Linked DNA regions of Homo sapiens. The protein of the gene in region 4 interacts with the protein of the main gene of each other region in a pairwise test. Each region holds a gene or a part of one and is shown on either strand. Other genes may lie near its edges.

Region 1 (3,567 bases), 3.9 Mb from region 4:
TTGTTTGCACAAATAGTTTAGGCATAGTAGACCACCGTTATCTCTTAGGGAACTGGGGAACCCTCTCAAAATCGAAGTTTCCAGCTGCCAGCGAAGGGCCAGCATGCAAGCAGAACTTTCTAGGAATAGCAGTCTCAGGTCTGCTGTGACTTTTCTGCACACCACCCTTCTTTCCTTCCTGTTATTTTTTTCTGTACACCAAAATAAGGACTTACTCTTGTTGAAAAAAATATATGAAGAATGGTAAGAAAATAAAAATAACTTATAACTCACCACTCAAATTTCATTTACATTTTATTATGTGTTTTTCCTTTTTCTATACATAATGTGCATGTACAAATATGTAATTTTAAAAGTGTGCATTCTTCAAGTGTTTTGAATTTCTTTGTGGTTTTTTTTTTTTTTTTTAGATGGAGTCTCACTCTGTCACCCAGGCTGGAGTGCAGTGGCGTGAGCTCAGCTCACTGCAACCTCTGCCTTCTGGGTTCAAGCAATTCTCCTGCCTCAGCCTCCAGGGTAGCTGGCACTACAGCCACGTGCCATCATGCCTGGCTAATTTTTGTATTTTTAGTAGAGACGGGATTTCACCATGTTGGCCAAGCTGGTCTTGAACTCCTAACCTCAAGTGATCCACACGCCTCGGTCTCCCAAAGTGCTGGGATTACAGGTGTGAGCCACTGCACCTGGCCGTTCTTTGTGGTTTTTTTTCAGTTGTTGATTTTTTTTTTTTTTGTAAGAAACAAAGCATTACAGATAAAGCTGAAGTATCCTGGGTATCCTTCCCCAGTCTTATTTCCCTTTCTTCTCAGATATGTACACATTTGCTGCTTATTGTCCCATGTGTTAATAGATTTTTGTAGGTATTATTTACCTGTTTTTAAATTTTATGTAAATATTATACAGTAAGTCATTCTATAACTTATTTTTTGCCCAGTAATTATGTTTTTGTAATTTATCTCTGTTAACATGAGATAATGTATAATATTCATATATAATGTATAATACACATATTCATATATAATATTCATATATGAGATAATGTATATATATTCACAAATCCTTTATCTGATTAATGGACATTGAAGTTGTTTGCAGTTTATCACTAGTGATCTTCTCCCCAGTGACTTGTAATGCCACCTCAGTCATACATCAGGCTTCCCTAATGTTTGGATATGTTTTGGGATTTTCTGTTCTAGTCTATTGGTCTGTAATTGATGTGGCTATCTTTTCATGAAAATAAATCATGGTAGCATGAAAGTTAAAACCTCCCAGGCAGACATGGTTTCAAGTTCTACCTCAGATTCTTACAAAGCCTTAATTTCCTAATCTGTAAAATAGTGCCTACCTTATTGATTTATGAGGATGGAGTTAAATTAGCCTTATAAAAAGCACTTAGCACAGTACCTGGCAAATAGAAAATACTCAATAATGCTAGTTGTTATTAAGATGATGGGTTTTTTTGTTTTGGTTTGGTTTGTTTGAGATGGAGTCTTGCTCTGTCGCCAGGCTGGAGTGCAGTGGCACGATCTTGGCTCACTGCAACCTCCGCCTCCCAGGGTCAACCAATTCTCCTGCCTCAGCCTCCCAAGTAGCTGGGACTAAAGGCACACGCCACCACGCCCAGCTAATTTTTTTGTATTGTTAGTAGAGACTGGGTTTCACCATTTTGGCCAGGATGGTCTCCATCTCTTGACCTCATGATCCGCATGTCTTGGCCTCCCAAAGTGCTGGGATTACAGGCGTGAGCCACCGTGCCAGGCCAAGATGATGTTTAATAGTGTTCCATTATATGTATGGACTGGGCCATAAATTATTTAACCAAGTCTCCAGATGTTTAAGGTATTTCAAATTTTTGCTGCCTTATTGAAAAGATTAAATGAGATAATACATATAAAGTGCTTAGGAAGTGCCCTGGAACATAGCTGTCAATAAGGGTTAGTGTTAATGATGAGTCATAAAAAGCTGTGTATATATCATATATCATTACTTATTTCCTAGTATAAATTCCTAGGAGAGAATTGCTGGGTCAAACAGTATGTTTCAAGGCCCTTGCTATAAGTCACAGTGATTTTTTAAAGCACGGATGTGATGACATGTCCACACCCAAATCCTTCAGTAATCTCCATGCCTGTGGAGAAAGGGCCATGCAAAGCTCTCCTCGATGAAACTGGCCTCTGCCTACCTCTTTTCCCTCATCTTCCCCACAGCACTGCTCACAGCCTAGACTTCTACCATTCTAAGCTAATTTTTGTTGTTAATCCTTTCCATGTAAAGACCTGCCTCCTTCTTTTTGAAAAACTTGAGGTTTTTTTCTCAAGATTTAGAATGTTCTAGCTCCTCCCACAAATGAAAACTTAGCTTAGATCCCACTCCTGTCAAGAAAGCTGCAGAGTTCCTCCTTCCATCCCTCCCTGCTGGGTTAGGTGAGCCTCTGAGGTGCTCTCATGGATTGCTGTGCATATCGCTTTGCTGCTCTTAATGCATCCTGGAGTGAAATATTATCTCATTTACTTGTTTGTTCTCTGTGCTAAGCTATAGCTTCTGGAGGACAAAGACAGTGTCTGACAGTTTTTCTGTGCTTGATGTAAGTAGTTGGTGCTGAATAAATGCTGGTTGAATAGAAGGATGAATGAATGAGTCACAAGAAGCAGTGACCATATCCCCTTGACTGTTGGAGAATGGTCAGTGCACCGCAAATATGCCTTTTCCTCCTCCTCACCAGGACCACACCATCTCCCAGCCACCATAAATCCCAGAAATGTGGGATTTAATGCTCTTGTTTTATTTTTATATTTTTTTATTTTTATAGAGACAGAGGTCTTGCTATGTTGCCCAGGCTGGTCTTGAGAACTCCTGGCCTCAAGTGATCCTTCCACCTCGGCTTCCCAAAGTGCTGGGATTACAGACATGTGCCACCGTGCCTGGTCTGTTGTTTTAATTAGACTCTTGATTGTGAAAAACTGAGACTTAGCTAATCCCAGTAAAGGGAATTAGTGATAAGATCTTGCACAGAGCCCAAGAGAGTTAGAGTATTATGGCAATCTATGAATAAATAAGGATGGTTTGCATGGAAATTGGAGCCCATGGGTGGTGCTAGGCGAGGTGAGGGCTTCCCCAGGAATTCTTAGGTCTTTGCGTCAGTGTTTCACCGCTGATGGGACTGCGCTGGGCTTCCCCCTGCCTGCCTCTGGTCCCGTGGTCTATTATGACCTTTTCTCTACCTTGTACCTCCCATGTGCCCATGGGTTCTGCTGCTGGTAACTTTGGTTCCCCGATCCTTGTGGCTGCTTCAGGACGTCCTTTCATGATATCCTTTCAGCTCGTCACCCACTTGTCCTGACATTTCTTAGTTCACATTCCCAAGGAAGGATGTCATCTTTTCAAGCCAGATCACATCTCAATCTACTAGTCATGTGTGCATTACCCACCTGTGGCCTAATCAGTGTGGCTCCGGGAATAAGACACAGGGTCACATGGTACAAAACCTGGCTGCCCAAGGGATGCTCCTTTAGCAAGGGCTATGAGTGGGGTATTTTTCCTTTGAAGAGACTGGATTGTCTTTGATAT
Region 2 (3,567 bases), on a different chromosome or scaffold from region 4:
TCCCATCCTGCATCCCCAAAGATCTTGACTGCATGCAACACTCTGGGGGCTGGGCGGCAAGGACCAGGATGGAGACCCTGGAGAAGAGTGACAGGAGGTGGCATTGATACCAAACTTTCGACGACCAAGGTTTCTTCTGAGACTCTGAGTGTCCAGCTGGAAGCGTTTTTAAGTGTCTGTCACTGGTATTGAGGAGTCAGGGGCACGGAATAGAAGACATTTCCGGTCACATGACATCTCGGCTGGGAGGGTTTGCATGTCGTGTCTGGGAAAGGAGTGACCTGCCCGCCCATTGGCACCCATCGCTGGTTAGCAGGGCTGTTTCCACGCTCTGAATGAGTCCGTTCTCAGAAACTATAGGAACACATAAAGGACTTACATCTCTAAATGCCATTGGTGCTCTTGCCTCTGGTTACTTGGCAAAAGGCAACGCAATTCATTCTGCATTGCCAATTTCCACCTGTGTTCACTGTTTGGTTTTCTTGATGTGATTTGTTTTTCCCATTTTAGGCACCAAAAACCAAGAAAGGATGTAAAGGTGAGTGGAGAGATGGAACATTACTCTTAAGCCAAATATATATCTTTTTCCCCTTTGGTCCTGGAACAATGAGATGTGTTTATTTAAATGTTTTTGGGCCGGGCACGGTGGCTCACACCTGTAATCCCAGCGCTTTGGGAGGCCGAGGTGGGTGGATCATGAGGTCAGGAGATCGAGACCATCCTGGCTAACACGATGAAACCCCGTCTCTGCTAAAAATACAAAAAATTAGCCGGGCGTGGTGGCGGGTGCCTGTAGTCCCAGCTACTCGGGAGGCTGAGGCAGGAGAATGGTGTGAACACAGGAGGCGGAGCTTGCAGTGAGCCGAGATCTCACCACTGCACTCCAGCCTGGGCAACAGAGTGAGACTCCGTCTCAAAAAAAAAAAAAATGTTTTTGATCAGTCTTGCTGTTCTTCCCATTATTCCGTAGGCAGCCTTGGTCTTCCTTATGTTGCCTCACTGGTCCTCAGAGAAGTTCAGACGTAAATAAGATATGAGGTTTTGGAAAAAATCCTCCTCCTTGGGCTCTGTATCCAGAAATATGTGGTTGGGATTCAGGGTGGGAAAGCTGGTGTGGGGAAACGAATTCGATATTCATACTTAGGTTCCCCCACATGCCTCCATCAGAAAGTGGCCATTGATGAGGACATCCAGACCAGTTCTGGGGGGTCTTAGATGGAAGGGTACAAGGAGCCTACTTGTCTGAAAGTAGCCTCCATGTGCCTAGAAATCTTGGGCACTCTTCCCAGCGAGCTGCACTGGGCTGTGTTCAGGGTCTGGAAGACTGATCTTTGGCCAGTGTGTCATGGTAGGCAGGTAGAATATAGGTTCTGCTGAAAATCTGCACCATCATCCTTTCAGATAGTTGTGTTTTTTTGTTTTTTTTTTTAAGACGGAGTCTTGCTCTGTTGCCCGGGGTAGAGTGCAATGGCGTGATCTCAGGTCACTGCAACCTCTGCCTCCCAGTTTCAAGCAATTCTTCTGCCTCAGCCTCCCCAGTAATTGGGATTACAGGCATGTGTCACCATGCCCGGCTAATTTTTGTTTTGGTTTTGTTTGTTTGTTTGTTTTTGAGACGGCGTCTTGCTCTGTCACCCAGGCTGGAATGCAGTGGCGCGATCTCGGCTCACTGCAACCTCTGCCTCCCAGGTTCAAGCAATTCTCCTGCCTCATCCTCTCCAGTAGCTGGGATTACAAGCATGCGCCACCAGGCCCAGCTAATTTTGGGGGGGGTCTTTTTGTTGTTTTTTGAGACGGCGTATCGCTCTGTCGCCCAGGCTGGAGTGCAGTGGTGCGATCTCGGCTCACTACAAACTCTGCCACCCGGGTTCAAGTGATTCTTCTGCCTCAGCCTCCCGAGTACCTGGGACTACAGGCACATGCCACCACACCTGGCTAATTTTTTGTATTTTTAGTAGAGACAGGGTTTCACTGTGTTAGCCAGGCTGGTCTCGAACTCCTGACTTCAGGTGATCCACCCGCCTTGGCCTCCCAAAGTGCTGGGATTGCAGGTGTGAGCCACCGCGCCCAGCCATTTTTTTTGTATTTTTAGTAAAGACAGGGTTTTGCCATGTTGGTCAGGCTGGTCTCGAACTCCTGACTTCAGGTGATCCACCCGCCTCGGCCTCCCAAAGTGCTGGGATTGCAGGTGTGAGCCACTGCGCCCAGCCTGAGATAGTTATTTAAATTTCTGCCTCGGGGTATTTCAACAAGGCTTTGTGACTTGTTGCCAGAAACTTGTAAAACATCTCGTGGCCAATGAAAGGAGAGCTAAGCCTAAGTCCCAACATCTGAAAGGTCTGACGCCTTCTGGCGAGTCTCAAGCCTTGATGTTTATAAGGGCCACTCTTCTTTCCTCCTGAAGTCATGACAGTCCCTTTTCTGTTCCAGGCTCCATTGATGATTTTCTTGGTGACCTTCTAGGGGATGATAGTAAGTGTGCCTTGCCCAGAATCCCCTAATTTGGGCTGCTGCTGTTGCTTTTTTTTCTTACTATGTTGCCCAGGCTGGTCCCAAGCTTCTGGACTGAAATGATCCTCCCGCCTCCTAAACCAAAGTGCTGGGATTACAGGCATAAGCCACTACACCCGGCCTTTTTTAAAAATTGAGATATATGCGCCTGTAATCCCAGCACTCTGGGAGGAGGAGGAGGGCCAATCACAAGGTCAGGAGTTCAAGACCAGCCTGACCAACATGGCGAAACCCCATCTCTACTAAAAATACAAAAAAAAATTAGCTGGGCATAGTGGCGGGCGCCTGTAATCCCACCTACTTGGAAAGCTGAGGCAGGAGAATCACTTGAACCCAGGAGGCGGAGGTTGCAGTGAGCCAACGTTGCACCACTGCGCTCCAGCCTGTGCGACAGAGCGAGACTCCGTCTCAAAAAAAAAAAAAAAATGAGATGTAATTTATATAGCATAAAGTCCACTCCTGTAAAGTGTACAACTCAGTGGTTTTTGAATATTCAAAAGTTGTACAACCATCAACATTACCTAATTCCGGAACATTTTCCATCACCCCTTAAAGAAACCCCATGCCCATTAGTAGTCAATTTCATTCTCTCCTCCCTCCAACCTTAGGCAAGCACTTATTATTTACTCTCTGTCTCTATGGATTTGCCTATTGTGGACACTTTACATAAAATGGAATCACACAGCATCTTACCTTTTTTTTTTTTTTTTTTTGAGACAGAGTTTCACTCTTGTTGCCCAGGCTGGAGTGCAATGGCGCAATCTCGGCTCACCGCAACCTCCACCTCCCAGGTTCAAGCAATTCTCCTGCCTCAGCCTCCTGAGTAGCTGGGATTACAGGCGCTCGCCACCACGCCCAGCTAATTTTGTATTTTTAGTAGAGATGGGGGTTTCTCCACGTTGGTCAGTCTGGTCTCGAACTCCCAACCTCAGGTGATCCACCCATCTTGGCCTCCCAAAGTGCTGGGATTACAGGTATTGAGCCACCGCGCCCGGCCAGCATCTTACCTTTACATCTAGCTTTTTTTTTTTTTTTTTGAGACAGAGTCTCACTGTG
Region 3 (3,567 bases), about 140 Mb from region 4:
TTCATAAAACAATGCTTATTCAGGATCTTTTTGTGAAAAAATTCATACAAAAATCAACAGCAAATTTATATTCTTTGCTATAAAAACTCATTAGGTACATATGTGCATGAAGGCTTGGAGACGGGAGCGGTTCTGTTAGAAAATAATTAAAATGAAAGTACAAACTTGTAGGGTAGTTGCCCAGTGGCGAATGTGTTGGCGATCTGAAATCTAGCCAATCTGGAGCTTGAGAAAACATGAATTTCAATCAATCAGGATCCCTTTCCATAAGCACCTTGAGAGCAAATTCACAAGCCATCCATTTGCAGGGACCTTCGCAATCTGCATTCATTTTATATATATATATATACTTTTTCTATAAATGCATTATAAATATTTTATCAAGATTTCATAAGAATCAAGTAAGTTTCTTAGCTTGGAATACATTGGAATATATATTATACATATATATATTTATTTATACCTAAAATTTAAGCAATACTTCATGCTACTTGCTTTTAATAAAAAGCATTCCGATCGTAACACTGCAAGTGTGCCTACCACATGCTTCACGACCAGATGGAGATGCTCAATCGTATGTGACGTGTGAGAACACTTTGGATTCGTTTAAAATTTGTTGGACTTCAAAACCTCCAACGGGATTTGCCACTTTTTTGGAACTACCTCCATTTTTCTTAAACAGCAATAAAGCAAAACAGGGACCGCCGGGCTGCAGCCCCTGGCCCCGGAGATGACGGCTGGTGCCCGTGCTTGAGGCGTCAGGCCAGCTCGCGGTGCCAGCACTGCCAGGCTCGGCTGGCCACAGGAAACTGTCCCACCGATTCCTGCTGTTTGTTTTTTCTTAAGGCATTGTTCCTCAGACTTCAGAAAACCCAGCCACAAAAATCCACCAGAGCAATAAAAAAAAAGGCACAAACTCGCATCTTCCGATGGCTTTTGAGAAACTCAAGCCAGCTCCCCCAGCTCACATTCCTGTTTCTGTCCAGTTTTGTTTTCTTTAAAGGTCCCTCTGTCCCCCACCCGGGTGCAGACCCCCCGCCGCACACCGCTATGGTTCACAGAGGCGGGCCACAGCCGTAGAAAACGTCCTCTTTAAAAAAAAATAAGCTACAAGATGAGTCGAGTGGTTTACACAGAGACTGTGGAGTTGTGGGTAATAAACTTTAAGCACCAGTTTTAATCAAGTTTGTTTTGTATTATTAGATCTTTGATATTTGTTTTCTGTGCCTCGTGTCAACTGAATTCGGCAGCTCGGCCGCCTGTTGCCACAGGCTCCTTTCTTCCACGGCGTCCCTTGCGGGACCCGCCAGAGTGTGCTTGGCTTCCGCGTGTCCGTGTGTCTGCGCGTCGCCGGCGTCTGTCCCGTGTTCCCTGTGAGGCTGCCACGCCCAGGCGTGCATGTGCGTCTCGAGACCTGTGGGCCTGGGCGGCAGAAAGGCTTCCCGTGGCTGTTGCACGCTGGGTGTCCCTGGGTGCTCCAAGAGAGCCCCACGGTGGGACGCAGGCGTGACACGGGAAAGTTTCTTGGCTGAGCTTCAAGACAGAGACAGACAGACAAGAGAACAGCAGCTTCGAGGGAGTGCTACAGGGGCGGCTCCTCTTCCATGGGCTCCTCATCTGGTCTGTGGATCCCGCAAGAGAAGGAGATGGGGGCGTGGGGCAGGTGCACCACAGAGAGGAGAGAACAGAACGTGGGTTAAAGGCTGTGTGCTGCCCCACCCGCCAGCCTAGCCCTGGCCTGGCAGCCCCGGGTCCATCTGTTCAGGATCTAATGCTCCTCATGCGTCTCTAAGGGGCTTTGGCACTGGAAGGAGGGGGCCACACTGGCCTGTCTCTAGTCTGTTGGGCAGGGCATGTGCCATAAAGGTTCTGACCCTGAATAGTGTGTCAGTGGGCACAGTGGGGCTGGGTGAGCCTGCAGGCGGGCGGCAGGGCAGGTGCTCACCTCTTTTCGGCGGGCTTCACGCCCACGGACAGCGAGGCCATGGCGGTGACCGTCTCGGCTTCTTCGTTCTCGCAAGTCTGAGCCTCGATCAGAGAACGCCCCGCTGTGGAGGTTGTGCGCTGCAGGCAGCGCCAGTACTTGCCTGGGGTGGTGGGGTGAGGAAAGTCGCTCAGTGACTACAACTTAGCAGGATGCACTGAGGCCCGGGAAGGTCCTGCGGGACCCTGAGCCTCAAACCAGATTGATCCCTTATGATTTTAAAAGCACCCGTCTTTGAAGAGACACGAAGCAGAAGACTGCATGGCTACAAACTCACAAAGACCCAAAAAATCTCTGGAAATGTTTCCCCATTGTGAGTGGCTCGAGTCCCTCCAGGAGCAGGCCCACCTAGGACTGCAGAGGGAGGCTCCTGTAGGCCTGGCTTTCCACGCTCACGGGCCCCTTTCTGCCCTGGGTGGCCAGGGCAGGGGGCTGCCAGCCTGCTGGGTTGAGCCTTCCTATCTCTGGGAGCAGGTGAGCTGGGGGATTGTCGCTGGGGCTGAGGGGTCTTCTGCCTGGGCCCTCACAGAGGCTGGGGGTGGAGGGGTACTGCGTCAGGCGCAAGGGGGTGTATGTGGAGGGCTGGGCCTGGCCCAGGGTCAGCTTCAGGGCTCTGAAGCCAGGACTCCCTCACACAGGGAAACGGGGAGCTGAGCTCTGGACTACCCCTGCTTCTGTGGACAGTCTCAACCATCTGGGTCATCTCAAAGGCAAGACAAGCTGGGCTTGCGACAATGACAGGGTGTGGGAGGCGCCTCTGAGATAGGCTGCGTGCCACGCCCTTGCACCCAGGACCTGCTGCTTGAGGGTCGGTGCCAGAACTCAGAGGGCCTACACCCTGCCTCTCTGCAGGGCCAAGGGTTCTTTGAGGTCAGGACGTGGGCTTCTCTGGTCCAGGGAAGAGGCCGGAGTCCCCAGGGTACAGGCTCACAGCCATGGCCCCCGCTGCTAGCTGGGGACCTAGAGCAAGTGACTCCACACTGAGACTGTCTGGGCCTTGATTCTCTAGACTTACAAATTGGGCTGATGGAACCATCCCAGCAGGCCGGGGGAAATCCAGTCGGGGTTAAATGTGAGTCTCTACCAGCTCAAGAAATGCAGCTGAAAGCAAGGCCTTCTGCTGCAGGCCTGGGGAAGCAGCCGGCAGTGGGATGGAGAAGAGCTGGGGGTATAGGGGGACAGGGATGGGGTGTGGTGCAGTCCCACCCCCAGGGGCGTGTCCCCTGTGAGCACCCAGCCAGGCAACTTACTGTGGATCTCCATGACTTTCTCCATGGAACGGACAGCGTTTGCATTGGGTCTTTGCTGTAAAACCTTTTCTGGGAGAGGATCAAGCTGGAAGAAAATGCATAAGAATATAAAGACTGCCAATATAATCCACACGTGCGTTAGACGGGTGTTCCGAGACTGCAACTGTTTCCTGAGCACAGAGACCCTTGTGGGGTGCATTTGCCCACAGAGTAGAAAAAAATAACTTTAAAAAGCCAAATGTGCCGTGGTATTTATAATTTTTTTGTAAAAGTGGATTTTTTTTTAGGACGCTATAAGATATTTGTGGGTTCCTACAAGTAGCAGGAAGAAAG
Region 4 (3,567 bases):
TTTGAGACGGAGTCTCTGTCACCCAGGTTGGAGTGCAGTGACACAATCTCAGCCCACTGCAACCCTCGCCACCCGAGTTCAAGTGATTCCCTGCCTCAGTCTCCTGAGTAGCTGGGATTATAGGCGCCCACCACTGCACCCGGCTAATTTTTGTATTTTCAGTAGAGATGGGGTTTCACCATGTTGGTCAGGCTGGTCTCAAACTCCTGACCTCGTGTTCCGCCTGCCTCACCCTCTCAAAGTGCTGGGATTACAGGCATAAGCCACCGCATTCGGCCTCAAGTAAAGACTTTCAAAAGCACTAGTTCAACTAGCTTTTCAGAATTTGTTTAGAAATGTATTAAATTATATTTCAAAAATGTGTAAACATTCCATTTTATGGAGTATTTTGTCTTTTAGTTTTTCCTTCGTTGGCTTGTCCTTCTTGAAGGGGTTTAACTTTTTTTTTAATGCATATTTTAACAACACACCAGTATCTATTACTGCCAGATGTGGAATCTGTACCATTCCATGAGAAAGCAGAATGGGAAACTGTAGCTAAAAATACCCTGGAGAAGAGCACATGAATAAAGGAAGATAGCACACACACACACACACACACACACGCAAATATGTGTAAAACTAACGCTAAAGAAATAGGAACGGCCGGGCGCAGTGGCTTACGCCTGTAATCCCAGCACTTTGGGAGGCCGAGGTGGGTGGATCACTTGAAGTCAGGAGTTTGAGACCAGCCTGGCCAACATAGTGAAACCCCGTCTCTACTAAGTATACAAAAAATTAGCTGGGCATGGTGGCGCATGCCTGTAGTCCCAGCTACTTGGGAGGCTGAGGCAGGAGAATCGCTTGAACCTGGGAGGCGGAGGTTGCAGTGAGCCGAGATCGCGCCCTCGCACTCCAGCCGGGGCATCAAGAGCAAAACTCCATCTCAAAAAAAAAAAAAAAAAAAAAAAAAAAAAGAAAAGAAACAGGAACAGAATTGGTTGGAAAATATAGGTTTGGGTTTTTAAAAATCTTTTTACTTAGTTACTTAAAATTTGAAAATTCAAATGGCAAGGTGAAATCTAGTTATTACTTAGTGAAATAACTTTCTTACTTTTTTAGGGCTAATGTTAGCTCTAAGTATCTGTTTATAGTTGGACTAGTTCAGGGTCAATGGAAGTTTTAAAAAGAGGTGTGGGAATGGTATTAAAGGCATTAAGATATTCAAACCCATTTCTGCCTTGACTGACTCCACTACTTCTACTCCCTCATCACGCCTTTGAAAAAGGAAAATATAGTTTATTTCTCTTACCTTTGCTCGAGGCCTAATGCTTACCTTCTTATTAGCTCTCACCTAAATATCAGTAGTATACTTCTATAAGTAATTGGATTGGAACAGCTTTTTGAAGATTTTGTTGCTGGCTAATATAAATAATACACTTAATCAAAATTATTCTTAAAAACTAAATTTAGGTATACATGATTGGCTTCTCTGGGTTTTATAACATAAAGAATGTGAGCAAGAGAACCAGTTCTAAATCCCAGTATAAAATGCCAATACTCCAATGCCAAACCATTGGTTTGCCTCCAAAAACAGGTGGTTATAGGGTTCTTGTATTGCTGGGTGACTGCATAAAATATCTTTTGACAAAGAATTTGATATACTGATCTCATAATTACACCTAAGTATAGCCTTTACTTTAATGAACATAATCTATTTTTACCCAGTGCAAATATTCACATTGATATACTAGGCTTTAAAGTGTGGAAAAGAATAGGACATACATGTTTTTAAAACCAAATGGAAACCTAAAGGGAAAGGGAAATTTTCTTTTTGTTCATTCAATTTTAACAGAAATAACAGCTTAAGATTTTTTTATTTAATACTTATATTATTTTTCAAGGAAAAGACCATTTCAGGCATGAAGAATATCATTGCTGAGATGGAACAGGCATCAAGGTAAATCAGTCGTGCAACAAATATATGAGCTCTTACTGGGGGGCCAAGTACCATGTTAGGTACAAAGATAGTAAGAAACAAGGGGCTTAATGATACGTGTAAGGTGCTAACTCTCTCATCAAAGGAGGCCTAAGTCTGTCTAAGGAACTAAAAGAGGGGATGGTGTTTGCCAAGTAAAATAAGGGGAAGGGAAGGGCATTTAAAGTAGAAAGAATAGCAAAGAACCACAGATCATGTTGACAAGCCTCTTGACCTACAAGTGGGTGAGTGTTGTTGAAACCTAGAGTGTAAGGGGAGAAGTGAAGGGAGGAGACTAAATAGGCAGGCAGAGGCTTGTGTAACAGACAAATGAGTATTGGTTATATCCTTTGGGCAATAAGAAATCATTAAAGAATTCTGAGGAGAATTTTGTGTTAGAAAGATACCTAAGCAGAAGAGGTGGTGATAAATTGGGGTTTAGGAGTTGTGGGACAGAAGGAGTGAAATGCTTTTGTATGAGGGAGAGACACCAGGAAAATGCCAAGTTTCTGGCCAGGGACAAATACTGAACATGAAGAAAGTATGAGGAGAAAAAATGATTTTACCTCTGAATTTGAAGAACCTTTGGGACCTTATTGTAGACATGTCTAGTAAGCAGTTAAATATAAGTCTGGAGTATAACAGAGGGTCTAAAACTGGAGATAATTATTTTGGAGTCATTGGATCTAGATGGGGTTGGGAACCATGGATATGAATAGAGTTTGTCTGAGAGAAGGGTTAGAGTGAGAATAATTGGGAGGCTAGGGCTTGAGCCCTGAAAAGCATTAATTTTTAAGTGGGCAGAGGAAGAGGAATCTGTAAAGGAGACTAAGCCATAACAGAAGTAGGATGAAAGCCTTCCTAATACTTGATGTAAGAAGTTTTGAAATATTTGGCAAATCATTGACTATTATGTATACTTTGTATCCTTTTCATAGCGAAATGATGGCAACATTGAGAAACTCTAATGCACTGTCTTTGCAGTATTTATTCCTATAAATTCAAACGTGTTTAAAATCTCTTCAAATGTTTTCATACTAACTGTCCATCTTCTGTCTTGTGAGAATTTGTTGCTCTGTTTCAGTAAAATGTCTCTTCTTATGTACTCTTTGATTTGTGGAATAGACAGTGTACTGAGGCCCTAATTGTGTGTGAACAAGACGTTTCCAGAATGCGTCGGCAATTGGATGAGACAAATGATGAGCTGGCCCAGATCGCCAGGGAAAGAGATATCTTGGCTCATGACAATGACAATCTCCAGGAACAGTTTGCTAAAGCTAAACAAGAAAACCAGGTACACTTGTTCCTAGAATCATTTTCTCCAAGAAAAAAAAATATGAATTTCTTGTGAGGAACAGCCCTCATTTTATTTTATAGAAGAGCTCAGACACTGGAACTAGCCTTTTCTTTTTTTTAAAAAATAACAAAATAGGCCACATAATTTTTAAATGGAATTCTCAGACACAAAGGGTTAAATATTAAAGAAAAGAGAGAACAGGGCTATATTTGTATTAAAGCTTAGTACTTCCTTGCTGAAGGATAAATATTTGAATAATCAAAAAATGAGAATAAAAACCTTGAGAAACCTTAAAGAAAAGAATAGGTGTTTT

What was found. Proteins that work in one complex are often made in the same cells at the same time.
Region 1: the proteins of TSGA10 (region 4) and ZNF2 interact in binary tests that used the Homo sapiens proteins (3 or more experiments, as listed by UniProt).
Region 2: the proteins of TSGA10 (region 4) and FBF1 interact in binary tests that used the Homo sapiens proteins (3 or more experiments, as listed by UniProt).
Region 3: the proteins of TSGA10 (region 4) and HDAC4 interact in binary tests that used the Homo sapiens proteins (3 or more experiments, as listed by UniProt).

What each region holds. Positions count from the first base shown.
Region 1 is NC_000002.12:95,172,248-95,175,814, forward strand, and holds part of ZNF2 (zinc finger protein 2), read left to right. Parts: intron 1-3,567. UniProt on the Homo sapiens protein: May be involved in transcriptional regulation.
Region 2 is NC_000017.11:75,934,537-75,938,103, reverse strand, and holds part of FBF1 (fas-binding factor 1), read left to right. Parts: intron 1-510; coding exon 511-538; intron 539-2,430; coding exon 2,431-2,472; intron 2,473-3,567. UniProt on the Homo sapiens protein: Keratin-binding protein required for epithelial cell polarization. Involved in apical junction complex (AJC) assembly via its interaction with PARD3. Required for ciliogenesis.
Region 3 is NC_000002.12:239,051,515-239,055,081, forward strand, and holds part of HDAC4 (histone deacetylase 4), read right to left. Parts: intron 3,320-3,567; coding exon 3,235-3,319; intron 2,088-3,234; coding exon 1,946-2,087; intron 1,623-1,945; coding exon 1,583-1,622; 3' UTR 1-1,582. UniProt on the Homo sapiens protein: Responsible for the deacetylation of lysine residues on the N-terminal part of the core histones (H2A, H2B, H3 and H4).
Region 4 is NC_000002.12:99,071,390-99,074,956, reverse strand, and holds part of TSGA10 (testis-specific gene 10 protein), read left to right. Parts: intron 1-1,883; coding exon 1,884-1,939; intron 1,940-3,082; coding exon 3,083-3,251; intron 3,252-3,567. UniProt on the Homo sapiens protein: Plays a role in spermatogenesis. When overexpressed, prevents nuclear localization of HIF1A.